Linked DNA regions of Homo sapiens: region 2 is linked to region 1. The links come from fine-mapping of genetic effects on gene expression. A gene starts in region 1. The other region holds a variant in brackets. All regions are shown on one strand. Distances are between the middles of the regions. Region 1 holds the start of ATP6V0A2 (ATPase H+ transporting V0 subunit a2). Region 2 holds the start of TCTN2 (tectonic family member 2).

Evidence for each region. PIP is the estimated chance that this variant, and not a neighbour inherited with it, causes the effect.
Region 2: its variant is fine-mapped to the expression of ATP6V0A2 in whole blood (INTERVAL, PIP 0.94).

The regions. Positions count from the first base shown.
Region 1 is chr12:123,708,172-123,716,171 of GRCh38, forward strand. It overlaps ATP6V0A2 (ATPase H+ transporting V0 subunit a2), which reads left to right and starts at 4,182. Exons shown (of 20, transcript NM_012463.4): 1 at 4,182-4,511. The coding sequence starts at 4,395. TCTN2 (tectonic family member 2) reads left to right here. Exons shown (of 18, transcript NM_024809.5): 18 at 1-228. LOC105370042 (a long non-coding RNA gene) reads right to left here. Exons shown (of 3, transcript XR_945477.4): 2 at 7,329-7,392; 3 at 4,595-6,563. RefSeq lists a silencer at 4,007-4,556.
Region 2 is chr12:123,666,837-123,678,748 of GRCh38, forward strand. TCTN2 (tectonic family member 2) reads left to right here and starts at 4,277. Exons shown (of 18, transcript NM_024809.5): 1 at 4,277-4,486; 2 at 4,671-4,778; 3 at 5,220-5,296; 4 at 6,779-6,974. The coding sequence starts at 4,405. The variant G/C (reference allele first, on the strand shown) is at 5,792.

The DNA of each region.
Region 1 (8,000 bases):
TGGTAAAGACGGGGTTTCGCCTTGTTGCCCAGGGTGGTCTGTAACTCCTGAGCTCAGATGATCTGCCCACCTCGGCCTCCCAAAGTGCTGGGATCACAGACGTGAGCCACTGCGTCCGGTCCATCTGACTTCTCAAAGACTTTAGACCTTGACTTCAGTGATTTGTTGTAGTCTTGTATGCTTCTCTATAAAATTTTAATAAATGAAATGTCTTATTTTTGTAGAAAATTTTTATTAAGTGCCCTGTGACTTTAATTCATATATGTAGCTATCCAATGCAGAATGAATATTCTCATCGCTGGCCTGAACTGAGTAAAATGCATGAGAAGAACTCAAAAATGTTAGAAATTTTAGCTTATCACAAATTAGTTAAAGTCATAGGAGTTTTATTTATACCAGAGAGAATCAGTCTTTTCTTTAGTTTTTAATACATTCGTGTTGATTGATGTTTCCCATATTCCGTAGAAAGGATTAAGAAATCCTTAAAAATGCATGTAATACAAAAACACAAAATCACTGATGGGGAAAGATATGGGGGCTGCGGGAGGAAAATAATAAGAGAAAAGTAAAACAAAACCAGGGGCACATGTAAGCCCTAAAATACATGCCAGAGGTTGCCTTTAGCAGAAGCAGGCCCCTAATTCATTATTTATTTATTTGTTTTTTGGAGACAGGTTCTCCCTCTGTTGCCCAGGCTGGAGTGCAGTGGCACGATTATAGCTCACTGTAAACTCAGACACCTGGGATCAAGCGATTCTCCCCCAAGTAGCTGGGACTACAGGTGGCACACAGCTACCACGCCTGGCTATTTTTTTTTTTTTTTTTTTTTTTTTTTTTTTTAGTAGATGGGGGTCTCGCTATGTTGCCCAGCCTGGTCTCAAACTCCTGGCTTTAGCGATCCTACCACCTAAGCCTCCCAAAGTGCTGGGATTACCAGCAGGAGCCACTATGCCCAACCAAGACCCCAGTTTACAAAAACCCAAGTATGATTAGCTATAGGAATTATGAAATCTATTCATTAATACAGGAATTATGAAATCTATTCATTAAAAATTAACTGGTTATCAATGAAGGACAGTTTTTCCTAGCTGAGTCTTGACAAATTTCTCCCATGGGCCGTCACATGGGAACAGTCAACCCCACTCAGTGGGGAGAATGGATTTTTTTTTTTTTTTTTTTTTTGAGACTCGGTCTTACTCTGTTACCCAGGCTGGAGAGCTGGAGAGCAGTGGCACAATTACGGCTCACTGCAGCCTCGACCTCCTGAGCTCAAGTGATCCTCCCACCTTAGCCTCCCAAGTAGCTGGGACCACAGGCTTGTACCTGGCTAGTTTTTGTATTTTTTTTTTTTGTAGAGAAGGGGGTCTCCCTATGTTACCCAGGCTGGTCTCGAACTCTTAGGCTCAAGTGATCTACCTGCCTTAGCCTCCCAAAGTGCTGGGATTATAGGTATGAGCTGCTGTGCCCAGCCCTGGAATAGATGTTTTTAGCCACGGTCCTACAGTGGCCACATGGCACATCACCTGTAAGTTTTCTTTGTGTGCCAGGTAACTTAGTTGTTTCAGATGGATTTTCTATGTTATTTAAGCCTAATTTTGAAAAATAATTATTTTCCCTTTTATACTTTTTGATCGAATTCCTAGTGCCTGCTGATACCCAGCACCACATAAAATGTGCTGTTTCATCTTCGCTGCAGAGTTCCTGCCCAGGGGCAATTTCAAATTTTCCTCCAGTCTTAAGTCCATTTTCTTTTTTCTTTTTTTTTTTGAGACGGAGTCTTGCTCTATTGCCCAGGCTGGAGAGCAGTGGCGTGATCTTTGCTCACTGCAAGCTCCGCCTCCCGAGTTCACGCCATTCTCCTGCCTCAGCCTCCTGAGTAGCTGGGACTACAGGCACCCACCACCATGCCCAGCTAATTTTTCGTATTTTTAGTAGAGACGGAGTTTCACTGTGTTAGCCAGGATGGTCTCGATCTCCTGACCTCGTGATCCACCCGCCTCGGCCTCCCAAAGTGCTGGGATTACAGGCATGAGCCACTGCGCCCGGCCTGAGTCCACTTTCAAATAGGGGGATGAGCTAGTCACTGCAGAGGTCCTAAGTTTCTGCATGATGGAAATACCGTGAATTTCAGCATCTGTACTGTGGTGGTGTTGGGCCTTCACCCGACCCCTCTAGGGCTGACTCAGGAATCTGGGTCAGTACTGGACTGACGGAGCTGGGGTCTGAGTCAATTATTGTCTGAACTTCAGCCTTTGAATTCACCTTCACAGTTCTTACTGTATCTTTTTGTTGTTGTTGTTTCTTTTGAAACAGAGTGTCACTCTGTTGCCCAGGCTAGAGTCCAGGGATGCCATTTCAGCTCACTGCAAGCTCCACCTCCCAGGTTCAAGCGATTCTCTTGCCTCAGCCTCCCGAGTAGCTGGGACTACAGGTGCCCACCACCACGCCTAGCTAATTTTTATATTTTTTTAGTAGAGACGGGGTTTTGCCATGTTGGCCAGGCTGGTCTCAAACTCCTGACCTCAAGTGATCCACCTGCCTCAGCCTCCCAAAGTGCAGGGATTACAGGAGTGAGCCAGGGCACCCAGCCTAGTGTAACTAGCTTTGGATTTCAGGTATTTATGGAAAATAAATTTAAAACTTCCAAATGACAGGTAATTTAGCTTGATTTTGTGGGCTTTGTGAGGACGCCTTTTGTACTTAAAAGAAGGAAAAAACTCAGTTTGGCAGAATGGGGTCTGGAGTGTCTATGGTTTTAACTTTTTTAAGTTTATACATTTATGTATGCATTCATGAACTATTTATTGAGTGGCTACTATGTGCTGGGGCTTGGAGATACCACAGTGGCAGAAACAATGTCCCCACCTTGGTGGAGCTTCCATTCTAGCAGGGAAGACTGGCACTAACACACAGACAAGATAATTTCAGATGGTGGCAGGTGCAGTGAAGGAAATAGAACAAGGATGTGACTCCAGGGACAGTCTCAAGGAAGGGGATATGTAAGCAGAGACTCGACTGGGACAGCGGTGAGGTTGCGGCCTGGGGCGGGGGGCCACTGCTTCCCGGTCAGTGTGGGGAACACACACTGGGTGCTGTGTGATTCCATCGACAGGACAAGCCTGGAGGTGGCAAATTTAGCGAGACAAAATTGTCCTGTGGTGGCCAGGCCGGGCGGGAAGGGGAGACTGCAACTGAGCAGGAGGAGTCTTGCGAGGTCGGTGGGAAATGTTTGAAAACTGGATTGGGATGCTGGCTGCACACTCCAACTTCACGAAGAAGCCTAGGATCCCTCCGGGCGGCGGATCACGCCTGTAATCCTAGCGCTTTGGGAGGCCAAGGCGGGAGGATTGCTTGAGTTCAGGAGTTCGAGACCAGCCTGGCCAACATGATGAAACCCCTTCTCTATAAACATTTTAAAAACAAATTAGCCGGGTGTGATGGCGCGCGTCTGTAATCCCAGCTCCTCCAGAGGCTGAGGTGGGAGGATCGCTTGAGCTCAGGAGGTCAAGGTTGCAGCGAGCCGAGCTCGTGCTACTGCACTCCTCCCTGGGCCACAGAGGGAAACCCTATCCATAAAAAACCAGCAGCAGGGCCGGGCGCAGTGGTTCACGCCTGTAATCCCAGCACTGCGGAGGCCGAGGCAGGCGGATCACCTGAGCTCTGGAGTTTTGAGACCAGCCTGGCCAACATGGTGAAACCCCGTCTCTATTAAAAATACAAAAAAATTAGCTGGACGCGGGTGGCGCGCGTCTGTAGTCACAGCAACTGGGGAGTCTGAGGCTGGAGAATCGCTTGAACCTGGGAGACGGAGGTTGCAGTGAGCCGAGATCGCGCTACTGCACTCCAGCCTGTGGGACTGCGTGAGATTCCGTTTCTCTCTCTCTCTCTCTCACACACACACACACACACACACGCAGCAGCACAGGGTCGTGCACTAGGAACGGGTGAGCTTCGCGGCGTGCACACTCGGCGAGACTCCTCCAGGAAAGCCGGGGAGCCGCGCGGGATTTAGCTCTGCGTCCAGTCCGGCGGAGCGCCAGCTGCAGTGGTCGTACCCGCCGGGTTCGCGCTGGTTGGCCCTGCCGCCACGTCGTGCGGCGACAACCTCGGGCGTCCATTGGTCGGCCGGCGGGGGGGGCGGGACGCGGGGGCGGAACCGGAACCGGCAGTGGCTTGGGGGCGGGACCTCGCGGACTGCTGTGGCGGCAGCTGGAGCGGCGGCCGCGGTGGCAGAACCGGGGGCGGCCGCTGCAGTCTGGAGCCCCATAGTGCGGGGCCGCGGCCAGGCCACAGGAAGAGCTCGAGGCCCGGGCCGCACCGGCTGAGTGTGCGGGCCCGCGCGGCTCGGAGCCGCCGCCGCCCATCGAGCCCCTCCGGGCGCGGGTCGGCCCGCCATGGGGTCCCTGTTCCGGAGCGAGACCATGTGCCTGGCGCAGCTCTTCCTGCAGTCGGGCACGGCCTACGAGTGCCTCAGCGCCCTGGGCGAGAAAGGCCTGGTCCAGTTCCGAGACGTGAGTGTCGCCCGGGAGACGCGGGCCGCACCTGCTCTCCTGGCGCCCCCAATCCCGCGCATCGCTGGGGCCCTCCCGCGGGGAGCACCGAGGAAGGGCGCGCCCCGTCCCCATTGTCCAGACGGGGAAGATGACACCCCAGCTCAGCGGCCAAAGCTTCCCGGAGCGCGGGGCTGACTCCAGGGTCGCCGGCCGTCTGTGTGGTCGGCGGCTGCTCTGCCCCAGTTAGTTAGGATCGCCCGTGTGGTCTTCATCAGCTCCGGGCACCGAGCTCAGCGGGAGAACAAATCCCACAAAGGCCTCTTGGAGTCCTTTTGGAACTTTACGGGGGTTAGGGGGGCGCATTAACCAAATAAATAGGTCAACCAGAAAAGGTTTGCCATAAAGAAGAAACGGGGTGATGTGAAGGTGATTCGGGCGGGAGGTGAGTGTGAAGGGATTGTCGAGGAAGCCTCCCGGAGAAGGTGATATTTCAGCTGAGACCCAAATAGAAAGGAGCCAGCCGTGGGGAAGATCTGGGGAGAGGGTCCTTGTTGGAGGGAACAGGAGGAGCCCAGACAGAGCCAGAAATGGGAAGGAGCTGGATGTCATCTGCTTGAGGAGAGGGATTTTTGTGTTTTGGTCACTGATGCTTAATGCTGTACATACCATTGTGTGTAAGGACTTAAGAACTCAGTCATTGTTTGTCGAGTGGAAGCTGTCTCCCCAACAAGTAATAATAAACATTTGTTTGTCCATTTACTTGTTTATTGTTTGTCTCCACCAAGGACTGTCAACCTCTGAGAGTAAGTACCTTAACGCAGTCCTTGGCAGTCATTGGCATCGATAGGCATTTGTTGAATGAACAGACAAGCTTTTCTTGACTGCCCGCTATGTTCAGGCACTGTTTTTGGTGCTGGAGACTCGGTGGTGAGCAAGGCAGACACAGTCCCTGTGTTCCTGGAGCTTCCAGTGTGGGAGGAGACAGATTAAACACACTCTGATTATGAGCTGTGATAAGTGCTAAGAAGGCAAAGAACAGGGTGTGGAAGGGAGACCGTGAAGCAAGTACTTACTGACTGAATTGAAATCCACTCAGGCGAACATTTTATTTCCTGGCCACCACTTTCATCTCCTGACTGTTTCCCTTAATCTTCCTAAGGTGTCCTTAATTTCAAAAGGGATCAGCCCTACCCGAGATCTGATATCCATTGATATCAGATATCTAATACCAGATCAGCCCCATAAGGCAGTTGCAAAGTCATGGAGAGACTCCTGAGTGACAGGCGAGGGTGCAGGTAAGATGCAGGGCGGTTCCTGGTTCCTGGAGCCACTTCTGCAGTTGTACCCATTCACCTGATGGATGCTGCGCTGAGCTGTGAATAGCACCCAAAACATTCAGGCAACAGCTGCAGGTGCAGCAGGCTCCTACATTTGTAACAGGTAGATGTTTTCCTTCCGGTTAGTACTCAAGCCAAGACACTTATCACACTTCAGTCTTACAGGTTTGAGCAAACGTACTAATCACTATGAAGGTTCCAGTTTCAATAAGCGCCACTACCTCCAGTCATAGAGTGTACCTGGGATCCTTTTCAACTGAATGTCAGTGAAAGGAGAAGAAAGTGCTGTTCATCTTTTTCCAGAAGGAAGTAAAACTAAGGTTGCTGCGATGAGCTCTTGTGTGGTGCTAGGTTTTCAGTGTGTCTTCAGCCTGAGTTTCCTACTGACTTTGTGGTGACCAGATGGGATCACTGTTAGTAACCCTTGCAAGGGAAAGGGGGGCAGGTGGTGACTTCCGTGGTGACAGCTAGTGGGAAGTACCTGGAAAAGAAAGGTCATTCAGCTGATGGGGAGGACTCCCTGAAGGGAAAGTTCGCACTTTTGTTACAGTTCTCAGTCTAAGAACAGGTTTCCTCTTTAGTCCTTCAGCTGAAGTGGGAGTATCAATGGCTGTGAATATCAAAACAAACAGCACCAGATCTCCTCTGCCGGTTTTACTAGGTTAAATGTGCCTTGAATTGAATCTACATTAAAATGTACCTTATTCCATTAGCCTTGAATTAGGGTGCTGCCCTAAAAGGGAAAAAAAACCCAAAATTTATAAAAGAAACCACACAATAGAAAAAAAAAGTTAATATGTCTGGGCACGGTGGTTCACGTCTGTAATCCCAGCACTTTCGGAGGCCAAGGCGGGCAGATCACAAGGCCAAGAGTTCGAGACCATCCTGGCCAACATGGTGAAACCCTGTCTCTACTAAAAATACAAAAATTAGCTGGGCATGGCGGGGTGTGCCTGTAGTCCTAGCTACTCTCAGAAGGCTGAGGCAGGAGAATCACTTGAACCCAGGAGGCAGAGGTTGCAGTGAGCTGAGATCGCGCCACTGCACTCCAGCCTGGCAACAGAGCGAGACTCCGTCTCAAAAAAAAGTTAATATATGTAAGCTGGTGATGGTGGTGTATGTATGTGAAATCCATGTTTGTATTATTGCCACAGAAATTTACCTCTTTATAAATAAAGATTCTACTATTTGTAGAAACATCATGCCCATTTAGAGTTAAGTACTATTTGATATTGAAGGAAGAAAATGAAAGCTGAGAAGTAGTATCCTGTGACAGCTTTAGACACAGAACTTCCTTTCCAACAAGTTCCATAGAACTAGATTGTGTCTGAATCATTAGTAACTTGGAAGTGGTTACTTTTAGTTCGACCTCCAGAAATGAATGAGAAGGTGACAAACAGAAGTGAAATGAGAATTTTTACCTTTTTTCTGGTTCTTTTAAAAAAAAAGTCCCCAAAAAATGAACAAGAACTGAGTCAGACACTGAGTAGACACTTACCAGGTTGAGCAGTTTCATGTCAAGTTGTATCTTAACTGTTTCTTGAGAGTGCCCAGTACAAATCCTGGATGGAATAAAGATAAATTTCGTGTCTTAAATGGCTTTCAACATGAATGATATACTGTAAATTGTTGAAGTATGAAAGTGATAGATGACCATTGTGAGAAATGTGGAAAACATAAGAATAGTAACATACCTTGCATGATCCCAACGCCTAGAAATTAACTTTAACTTTTTGGCTAATACTGGACAATCAGCATTTCTCTAATAATGTTTAAAAATGTCCATATATATGTATTTTTATATAATTTGAACCACACTGAAAACATCCTAATCTGCTTTACACAGAAATCATGACTAACTTCCTAATTTTATTAAATATTCTTTTACAACTTTTTAAAATTGTTTTAAACTTTATATTATAAGTAGAGGGAAGAGTACAGTGTACCCCCATGTACCCATAAATGTAAACTTAGTTTTTTCTCACTTCCCAGACTAGATCATTTTGAAGCAAATCCAAGATATATAATTTAACTTTTCAACAAGTACCTCTAAAAGATGAATTTTTTTTCTTTTTTTTTTTTGAGATGGAGTCTCAATTCTGTCGCCCAGGATGGAGTGCAGTGGCGCGATCTCAGCTCATTGCAACCTCTGCCTCCCAGGTTCAAGTGA
Region 2 (11,912 bases), 39 kb before region 1:
CTGCCACCATGCCCAGCTAATTTTTTTGTATTTTTAGTAAAGATGAGGTTTCACCATGTTAGCCAGGATGGTCTCAGTTTCCTGACCTCGTGATCCTCCCACCTCGGCCTCCCAAAGTGCTGGGATTACAGGCATGAGCCACCGAGCCCAGCCTAATATTTGTATTTTTAATAGAGATGGGTTTTCGCCATGTTGGCTAGGCTTGTCTTGAACTCCTGACCTCAGATGATCCACTCACCTTGGCCTCCCGAAGTGCTCGGATTGCAGGTGTGAGCCACTGCGCCTGGCCTCTTTTTTTTCTTTTTCTGTGGAGATAGCATCTTGCTGTATTGTCCAGGCTGGTCTTGAACTCCTGGGCTCAAGCAACTCCTGGGTTCCTCTTGCCTCGGCCTCCCAAAGTGTTGGGATTACAGGCATGAGCCATCACACCTAGTCTTAAAATCTATTTTATCTGATATAAGTATATAGCTACTTTTGCTCTTTTTTGGTTTCCATTAGAATATCTTTTTCCATCCCTTTATTTTTAGTCTATGTGTGTCTTTATAGGTGAAGAGTTTTTATAGGCAGCTAATCATTAGGTCTTTTTTTTTTAAATCTATTCAGCCACTCTATGTCTTTTGATTGGAGAGTTTAGTCCATTTACATTCAATGTTATTATTTATAAGTAAGGACTTACTACTGCCATTTTTAAATTTGTTTTCTGATCTTCCCTTCCTCCCTTCCTTCCATCTTCCTTTTTATGAAAGTGATTTTCTCTGGTGGTATGTTTTAATTTCTTGCTTTATATTTTTGTGTATCTGTTGTAGGCTTTTTGATATGAGTTTAGCATGAGGCTTGCAAATACCATCTTATAACCCATTATTTTAAACTGATGACAACTCTGATTGCAAAAACAAGCAGAGAAAACTAATACTCTAACTTCATCCCTCTGATTTTTAACTTTTTGTTTCTACAATATTTATATCTTATTATACTATGTCTTAAAAAGCTGTAGTTATTATTTTTGATAGGTTTGCCTTTTAGTCTACTACTCAAGATATGAATAGTTTACATATTTGTAGAGGTGCCACCTTGGTGATCTTGGGTACGATCTTGGAGAATTCCCTGGATCACCGTTAGCAGTGACGAGTCTGTACAGGTCTGCAGCAACTCGATTCTTGCCTCCTCAGAGGAAAGAATTTGGCCAAGCAGCATAAGGCAGAGTGAGAGACCAAGGCAAAGTTTAAAGCAGGGGTAAACGTTTATTAAAAAGTTTTAGAGCAGGAATGAAAGGAAGTAAAGTACACTTGGAAGAGGGCCAAGCGGGCGACTTGAGAGATTCAAGTGCCCCGTCCGACCCTTCACTGGGGGTTTCTATACATTAGCATGGTTCTGAGGTTTGTGCCCTCCCTTGATTTTTCCTTGGGGTGGGCTGTCTGCATGTCAGTGGCCTGCCAGCACTTGGGAGGGGCCGCATGTGCAGTGTGTTTACTGAAGTTGTGCGCATGCTCATTTGAGGCATTTTCCTTTACCAGTCGAGCCTTCCCAGAGGAAGGTTATATACCAGTTAAAATCTGCCATCTTGCCTCTTACTATGTATGCATGAGCCTGCTTGCCCAACTCCTGAGATCTTATCGGGAAGCTGCTGATCACCAGCTTCAAGTGTTTTCTATCTTTTTTTTTGAGATGAAGTCTCACTCTGTTGCCCAGGCTGGAGTGCAGTAGCGCGATCTCGGCTCACTGCAACATCCGACCCCTGGGTTCAAGCGATTCTCCTGCCTCAGCCTCCCGAGTAGCTGGGAGTACGGGCATGCGCCACCACGCCCAGATAATTTTTGTATTTTTGGGTAGAGATGGGTTTCTCTGTGTTGCCCAGGTTGGTCTTGAACTCCTGGCCTCAAGTGATCCATGTGCCTTTGCCACCCAAAGTGCAGGGATTACAGGCATAAGCCACCAAGCCCGGCCCAGAAATGTTTTCTTTTGGGAGGATTTATCTCTTAATCTTTACCGCTTGGCCTTGCCAACTTAATTTGCAGATTAATTCCCCCCAAAGACAGATGGGGAATAACAGAAATATTTAAGTGTTTGACAGCTTCCTCTTAGTAACGTTCTCCTAGGCTTCATTCCAAGATATCAAGAGAGGTAAACATTTTGCAGTCTTCCAGAGAGGAGCTGAGGTACACGGGAAAAGTTTCATGCTCATGTTACAACTGTAGTGACCCACAGTTTTTCAGGGAGTATAAGAAAAAGATAACACCCAGTGTCAGGCCCTTATAAAGCCTCAACTTTCAGAATCCTTTCACAATGTTAGATTTGCTGATCAATGAATATATAACTGAACATTAAGAGTAATAATGGGGCTGGGTACGGTGGCCCATACCTGTAATCCCAGCACTTTTAGAGGCCAAGGCAGGAGGATCACTTGAGCCCAGGAGTTTGAGACCAGCCTGGGCCACATGGTGAAACCCCGTCTCTATAAAAAATACAAAAATTAGCCGGGTGTGGTGGTGTATTGCCAGTTACTTGGGAGGCTGAGGTGGGAGGATCAGCTGAGCCCAGAAGTTTGAGGATGCAGTGAGCTATGATTGTGCCACTGCACCATTCCAGCCTGGGTGACAGAGTGAGACCCTGTCTCAAAAAGAAAAAAAAAAAAGACTAATAATGGCAAACATTTACTTGGCATTTACCGTCAGTCAGCCACAATGCTGAACACCATGATTGTCTCAGCTAAAGGATACACCACCTCTCTGATAGTTAACAAGTAACTGATCATTAACTGAGTGCTTACTGTATGCCAGCCATTGGTTTAACCTCATTAGATATGTTACCTCATTTCATCCTCACACAATCCCCAAGGAAGGATTATTATCATCCCTTTTTTATAGATGAGGAAGCTGAAACTTAGAGAGGTTGACTTGCCCAAAGTCACTTAACAGCTGAGAATATCTGTGGAGGGAAGGCGAAATCCCATGCCAGGCAGCCTGACCTCAGACCCTGCACTCTCAGTCCCCAAGCCGTGACAATATTTGAAATGTTCTGAGGCTACTGATATAAGAAAAAACAATTTTTTTCCAGACAGAATTTTGATTCTTTCACATCTGTCCTATTGCTGGGCAAAACCTCTTGTGTGTTCTGTGATTGGATCTGCTTTCAGAGTGCTGAGAGCTCTGTGCAGGGGAGAAAATCCTTCAAAAACCTAGGAGAATGATAATAAAAGCAATAGTGATAATAAATGATAATGATAAGAATTATAAAAATATAAATTTTATAAAATTATAACATATAAGTATAAAATTTACAAAATATATACTTATATAAAAGATAAATATATATAAGATAAAATATAAATACATATATATTTTATAAGATAAATAAATAAATAAATATATTTTTGAGACGGAGTCTGGCTCTGTCGCCCAGGTTTGAGTGCAGTGGTGCAATCGCGGCTCACTGCAACCTCCGCCTCCCAGATTCATACAATTCTCCTGCCTCAGCCTCCTGAGTAGCTGGGATAATAGGCGCCTGCCACCACGCCTGGCTAATTTTTTGTATTTTTAGTAGAGACGGGGTTTCACCATGTTGATCAGGCTGGTCTCAGACTCCTGACATTGTGATCCGCCCGCCTCGGCCTCCCAAATTGCTGGGATTACAGGCATGAGCCGCCAGACCCGGCCTATATGTATTTTATATATATCAAGTATGTATATCTGATATATATATATAAAACAAAGTATATCTATTTTGTAAATATATATTTATTTTATAAAAATATAAAATATAAATAATACATCATAAACGATAGTAAAGATAATAAACACAGCGCGGCAGCCCCATCCCCTTTTTCTACTCACCCCTAAAACAAATCCGTATAAAAATCAAGTTTATTAAGGAGCAAGTCCCACCCTTTTTATTTAGAAGCCAGTGTCTATAGGATCGCTCTTGGCTATTGTTGGATTAATTCCAGGGTAGGGGAAAACTCCAGTTTTTGAGCCGGACACGCACTCCTGCTTTTCAGGACCTTTTTAATTTTGATGTTTTCAACTTTTAGGCCCAGGGGTCCATGTACAGGTTGCTATATAGGTAAATTGCGTGTCACGGGGGTTGGGTGCACAGATTGTTTCGTCACCCAGGTACTAAGTGGAGCACCGGATAGGTAGTTTTTCAGCCCTCACTCTCCCCACCAGAGTCAAGCAGCAAAAATGCTAGGCCTTGTGGGCGGGGCCGGGGTGCCCGCTCTTGCCACTGGTCCAATCACAGCGCGGCGTTCCTCCTGGCCGGCCGCCGATTGGTGGTTGCCATAGCTCCGGGCGTTCGCTTGCAAGATGGCGGCGGCGGGGCAGTGGCTGCTGCGTTTTCGTGTCTGAGTCCTTCCTGGGTTCTAATGAGGGCGCGGTTCTGCTGTGCCCGGCCCGCGAGGTCTAAGGCATGGGCTTCCAGCCTCCGGCCGCTCTTCTTTTGAGGCTTTTCCTTCTGCAGGGCATCCTGAGGCTTCTGTGGGGGGACCTGGGTGTGTACGGCGCGGCAGTGACCTCGGTGGGCCGGGGCTGAGGGGACTGGGCGTTAAAAGGGCCAGACTTGGACTCCCCCGGGAGCTTCGGGAGTCGACAACGCCAAAGCAAGCCGCCACACACACCTTAGGCGGTGATTCTTCCACTGCTAACCCCTCCTTGTCCCCTTTCCTTCCCGCCTAGCTTTCATCCCTCCTTTTATCCGAATGTCCGGCCCTGCGGTCAGCGCGTCCCTGGTCGGAGACACCGAGGGTGTGACCGTGTCCCTGGCAGTGCTGCAGGACGAGGCGGGTAAAGTCCGGCCCTCTTTTGGGGAGGGTGGGGGTTGGACTGGATCCAGACCTCCCAAGGAGCCTGGAGAGGTGGCATCCTTGGGGCCCCCTGCCTCTGTTCTCTGCAAAGTCGCATGGGGAGAAAAGGATCGGGCGGCTGCTGTAGGCCAAAGAGGACAGACGGACAGGTTCGAAGAAAGCCTGAAATAATAATGGTTAGCATTCATTGAGCTAACATCGTGCATCATCCCATTTTCCTAGTAAGAACAGTAATATCTTTTCATCCCCTTTGACCAAGGAAGAAACAAGTTCAGAGAGGTTGTCACTGTCCCAGTGTCAAGCAGCTTGTAAAGGGCCCAATCTTAGGCTGTAATGTGAGTCCATCCTAGGCAGTCTGACTCAATGCACCCCCTGAGCTGCTGGACCTTGCTGCCTTTGCATGCTGGTCTTCTTTCTTTAGGAATATTGCCAATTCCGACGTGTGGAGTGCTGAACAATGAGACGGAAGACTGGAGCGTGACTGTGATCCCCGGTGCGGTAAGGCCAGAAGTAAACCTTCTCTGTAGCCTGTGAAGAGGCCCCCAGCTAGGGTTTCTGCAGTGCTCTCTTTATTTAACAAGGCATGGCTTTCTCCATGCTCTCAACAATCATGAAATTGTGGGCTGTTGGATCTGGTAGACACTTATCCAGCCCACGGGTTCCTTACCCTGGGGTTAGGAGTCCTTGGATGTATTTCAGTGGGTCTGTGAACTCTATGAAATTGTATGTAAAGTTCTGTGTGTATGTGCATTTTTCTGATGAGAGGGTCACCAGTTTCCTTTAGATCATCAAATGGGTCAGTGATTCAAAAAAGCTTTATGCCAGGCATCGTGGCTCACGCCTGTACTCATAGCGCTTTGGGAGATTGAGGCGGGAGGATTGCTTGAGCCCAGGAGTTCCAGACCAGCCTGTAACATAGCGAGACCTCGTCTCTACAAAACAATTAAAAAAAAAATTAGGTGGGTGGCGTACACCTACAGTCCCAGATACTTG[G/C]AGGGGGGTGGGGTAGCTGAGGCAAGAGGATTATTTGAGCCCAGGAGTTCAGGGCTGCAGAGAGCTATGATCGCACCACTGCACTTCATCCAGCCTGGGCAACAGAGCAAGACCCTGTCTCTTAAAAAAAAAGAAAAAGCTGGTCAGGCGCGGTGGCTCACGCCTGTAATCCTAGCACTTTGGGAGGCCGAGGAGGGCGGATCATCTGAGGTCAGGAGTTCAAGACCAGTCTGGCCAACATGGTGAAACCCATCTCTACTAAAAATACAAAAATTAGCTGGGCGTGATGGCGGGTGCCTGTAATCTCAGCTACTTTGGAGGCTGAGGCAGGAGAATCACTTGAACCCGGGAGGCAGAGATTGCAGTGAGCCGAGATCACGCCACTGCACTCCAGCTTGGGTGATGAGCGAGACTCCGTCTCAAAAAAAAAAGCTTCATAACCACTGATCTTGCCCAACTCTGAGCTTATGTGTAAGGATACTCAAACCTGGAGAGATTAAGCATCTTCTATTTAATAAGTGTTTATTGGATACCTAGTATATGCAACATCAATTCTGGAGAGAAAAGGACAGGAAAGACAAGCTCTGCTTGTACCCCAGGAGTGAACATGTACATGTCTAAAGTCATTCTGGGATAAACTGAGGATTGTTTTCATTGACTTTTTTTGTGTATTTACTCTTCCACTGATAGGATGATAAAGAAACTAAAAAGGTGTACAATAAACTGAGTTTATTTATCAGATCTGTGTTTAGCTTTCTCTAAGTATCCCGAAGTTGTTTGCTTTTATGTTAAGGAAGAAGAATCAGGGCTTGCATGTTACCATAGGTTTATGGGGGGGAACTGAAGATAACTGTGTCATCTCTGTATACATTTCCCTTTTATAAAATGAACGGAGGCTGATGTGTACTTTTATTGTGTTTTCCATTATGTATTCTTATAGACCCTGTTTTGAGTCACTTTAAAAATACAGCAATGTTTTCCTTTCAGAAGGTGTTGGAAGTGACAGTGAGGTGGAAGAGAGGTCTGGACTGGTGTTCCTCCAATGAGACAGATTCCTTCTCAGAGTCCCCCTGTATCCTCCAGACCCTTCTGGTTTCAGCATCTCATAATTCATCCTGTTCAGCACATCTACTCATTCAAGTGGAAATTTATGCCAACTCTTCTCTGACCCATAATGCCTCAGGCAAGTGAAGTCTTTGACTGTCAAAACTTTCATGTTGTTCCCAGCTACTTAGGAGGAAGAGGTAGGAGGATTGCTTGAGCCCGGGAGGTTGATGCTATAAATGAGCTGCCCGGGAGGTTAATGCTACAAATGAGCTGTGATCGCGCCACTGCGTTCCAGCCAGGGTGACAGAGTGGGACCCTGTCTCAAAAAAAACCAAAAACAAAAACAAAAAAAGAAAAATTTGTGTCAAGCTTACCTGTTTGATTATAAGTGTATGCCATGCAATTTGTAAAGTATACTTCACTTGAGTCTGTCTTGCTTTTCTAAACTTATTTTTCTTTTGTTTAGTTTTCTTTTAAGAAATTTCATTTTGTACTATTTTATTTAACATTTATTTGATCTTTCTCTACTGTTTGCATCTTTATAAGCTACCTTGAATCCTTTTTGGGAGAAGGTGAAATTTGTTTATGTACATTGATTCTCTCTCTTTTTTTTTTGAGATGGAGTCTAAGTCTGTCACCAGGCTGGAGTGCAGTGTTGTGATCTCGGCTCACTGCAACCTCCACTTCCTGGGCTTAAGCGATTCTCCTGCCTCAGCCTCCCGAGTAGCTGGGACTACAGGCTCACGCTACCACGCCCAGCTAATTTTGTACTTTTAGTAGAGATGGGGTTTCACCATGTTGGCTGGGATGGTCTTGATCTCCTGACCTTGTGATCCGCCTGCCTCGGCCTCCCAAAGTGCTGGGATTACAGGCGTGAGCCACTGTGCTCGGCACGTGCATTGATTGTCATGACTGCATCTTAAGAAGAAAAAAGGAAGGGTGGCCAGACGCAGTGGCTCCCACACTGTAAGTGCTTTGGGAGGCCAAGGCGGGGGAATTTCTTGAGCCCAGGAGTTCGAGACCAACCTGGGCAACACAGCAGATACTGTCTCTATAAAAAATTTTAAAAAGCTGGGCATGATGGTGCCTGCCTGTAGCCCTAGCTACTAGGGAGGCTGAGGTGGGAGGATCGCTTGAGCGTAGGAGTTTGAGGCTGATGAAGTTTACATCATTTCCAGCTTTTTTTAAAATTTATTTTTATTTTCATTTTTTTTAGAGACACGGTCTCACTCTGTTACCCAGGCTGGAGCTAGAGTGCAGGGGCACGATCCTGGCTTGCTGCAGCCTCAACCTTCCTGGTTCAGGCGATCCTCCTGCCACAGCCTCCATAGTAGCTGGGGCTACTGGCGTGCACCACCACACCTGGCTAGTTTTTACATTTTTTGTAGAGACAGGGTCTCACTATGTTAGCCAGGCTGGTTTTGAACTCCTGGGCCCAGGTGATCCTCCCACCATGGCTTCCTGAAGTACTGGGATTACAGGCAGGAGCCACTGCACCTGGTCTGTTCCCAGCTTTTGATGCTACAGCAAAGATCGTTATGCCCGTGTACATGAATCTTTGGACATGAGAAAATGGTTTTGTGTTCATCTCCGTCTCACATGATGTTAGTGTTCTTAAACCAAAAGAGCTTTCAACTAGATGTGCCGATGTAGAGGGCTCTGCAGTGATGAGTGCTACTGCCATGTCCCCTGTCTCCGGTGGCGAACTCTGACATCTCTTGCCTTTATGGCCACGTGGCATGGAGGGAGAAGCGTTCCAGACTTTAGTAGCAAAAGTCTGTTACCTGGAGACTCCTTTACTGCCGCTTCCCTTATTACATCCCTAACTGTGGTCCTCCTGGTGCTTCTGGAAGTTTAGGATGATAAGACAAGTTTTGACAGCTCCTTTCAGCAGACTACTGTGCCCTCAGTGTACTTGCATGGAAAGGCCTCCATGATGAATGAAGTGAAAAAAGCAAGTGCAGATGGCTGCCTACAGTGTGCTATCTTTTGCATAAAGGAGGCAGAAATGAAAACATTTGCATAAAGAAATTCTGGAAGGATGTTGGAGAAGCTAATAATGTGCTACCAAGTTGGAGGATGATGTGGGAACAGGAAAGGGCTGACAGTGAGGAATTTTTTAATATGCTTTTGATTTTTTGGAACCATGCAAATGTGTTACCCACTTAAAAGTTTTAAATTTTTCTATGGCTTAAAATTCAAAACAAAGCCAAAAAAACCGTATTCAATGATGAAAAAAAAAATCCCCCCAAAACAACAGAAGGGATTCATGATAGCTGTACCATTCAAAGCACTGACTTTTTTCCTTTGAGAAATATGCTTGAGGCCAGGTGGTGGCTCATGCCTGTAATCCCAACACTTTTAGAGGCTGAGGTGAGTGGGCCACTTGAGCCTAGGAGTTCAAGACCAGCCTGGGCAACATGGCAAAACCCTGTCTCTACAAACAAATACTACAATTAGCTGTGCGTGGTAGTCGGTGCCTGTAGCCCCAGCTATGAGGGAGGCTGAGGTCGGGGGATCGCTTGAGCCCAGGAGGTGGAGGCTGCAGTGAGCCAGGATTGCTCCATGTACTCCAGCCTGGTCGACAGAGCAAGACCTTGTCTCTAAAAAAAGACCGGGCGCGGTGGCTCACGCCTGTAATCCCAGCACTTTGGGAGGCTGAGGTGGGCGGATCACGAGGTCAGGAGATCGAGACCATTCTGGCTAACACGGTGAAACCCCGTCTCTACTAAAAATACAAAAAATTAGCCGGGTATGGTGGCGGGTGCCTGGAGTCCCAGCTACTCGAGAGGCTGAGGCAGGAGAATGGCGTGAACTCGGGAGGTGGAGCTTGCAGTGAGCCAAGGTCACACCACTGCACTCCAGCCTGGGTGACAGAGCGAGACTCCATCTAAAAAAAAAAAAAAAAAAAAAAAAAGGAAAATATGCTTCAGTATATTTAGGTAATATTTAATATTTTAGAATACCAAACTTAGAAAATTGAACATCTTTGTATATGAGTGATTGAGTTGTCAGCTCTGACCCCATGAAGGCATGAAAAATTTTTTACTCAGCCAGCCAGCGATTAAAACTAGAAAAAGAATGGAAGCACAGACAGGAGGTATGTGTCATACCCAGTAACAATGAAGCCAGCGAACAATGTAGAAAACATAAATCAACACACAAACATCTATTTGTATAACACATAGTAAAACCCTATTCTGAAGTGTCTCGTGGCTGGGGGTGGTGGCTCATGTACTATGCCTGTAATTCCAGCACTTTGGGAGGCCAAGATGGGAGGATCACTCGAGCCCAGGAGTTTGAGACCAGCATGGACAACATAGTGAGACCCTGTCTTTACAGAAAATATGAACGTTACCTGAGCATGATGGTGCACACCTGTGGTCCCAGCTACTTGAGAGGCTGAGGTGGGAGGATCACTTGAGCCCTGGGAGGTTGAGGCTGCAGTGAGCTGTGATTGTGCCATTTCACACTTCAGCCTGGGCAGCAGAGTGAGACCCTGTCTCAAAAAAAAATCAATAAAGTGCCTTGCTTGTGTCACATGGGTTTGATAACACTGAGGGTCAGACCCTTACCCGTGTAACGTGGTCTGCGATGTGGACCTTCTCCTTGTTCCGGATACCATTGATGTATCATTGACCTTCTGCTATGTTACAGGATAGAACAGATCGTTAGTTGTTCTTTAGATACTTCAGCTATTGTGTCATTACAGTTAACTGTTATGTGGGGTTTAAACAAATAGTTCCTGCATGGTTTTCTAACGTGTACCAAATGCAAAAGTAAAATTCAGCAGAATGAAACTTTTATCTGATAAATGATTGGAGAGAAATCCAAAGCATTACTGTCACTGGATTCTGAGTTAGGAGGCTGAAATGTCGTGTAACATATTCCTCTTCAAAGAGGAAAACAAGTTCGGAAACCTGTAATATCCTGAAGAGTTATAAACAACGGGCCCTGCCAATGTTTACCTTTTTAGCATTTCTCCTGAGCTGCTTTCTCTGGCCTTGTCCCATTCACGCCCGCCACCTTCTCCCCTGCACCACAGTGTTCCCCCTATTCATCCACCCCCTCTGTCTTCCACCTACAGCTCTCCAGTAGCCCCTCTTACCTGTACAAACTCTTTCTTTTTTTTTAAAGTATAGATGGGGTTTCTCCATGTTGGTCAGGCTGGTCTCGAACTCCTGACCTCAGGTGATTCCCCCGCCTTGGCCTCCCAAAGTGCTGGGATTACGGGCCTGAGCCACTGTGCCTGGCTACCTGTACAAACTCTTACGTGTGTTTCAGGCTCAGCGCATTCTCTCTCTCTGCAAGTCTTCCTGACGCCCAGCCTAAGCCACGTGCCCTCCCTGGGTTCCCATGGCAGATCCATTTCAGTGTTTACCCTTTATGGTCACATGATCTCTTTACCTGTCTCCTCCCTCTGAGAGTGCGAGCCCCTCAGGGAAGCTGTTGTGTCTCACTGTATCATCCCTGCATAACCCAGCCCCCCATACTCTCGTGGTCAGACCACATTTGTCCCACCTGCACTGTTGGGTACCACAGCCACGAACCATGTCTGGACACTGGACAGTTGAAAGGGGATGGGTCTTAATTGAGATGTGCTGTAACTGTTAAACAGCCACCAGTTTTTGAGGACTTAATGTGAAACAAAGAATGTGGAATAGCTCATTCATAATTTTTACATTGATTGCCTGTTGCAATGATATTATTTTGGATACGTTGGGTTCAGTAAAATATATTAAGTTAATTTTATCTGTTTCTTTTTTGTAGCCTGGGCTACTTTTTGTATTTTTATTAGAGACAGGGTTTCACTATGTTGGCCAGGCTGGTCTTGAACTCCTGACCTCAGGTGATCCACCCACCCTGGCCTCCCAAAGTGCTGGGTTTACAGGTGTGAGCCACCCCGCCCAGCCTAAAATCAGTACATTATGTATATACTAACTTGTGACTCTTAGTCAATTGATTATCTTCTAGATCAACTATGACTTCTTTGGTTCATTGTAACTGGCGTGTTTTCTTATGTTTGGGTTTTTGTTGGAGTGGTAGATGCAGGCCTCATATACTTCGTGGATTC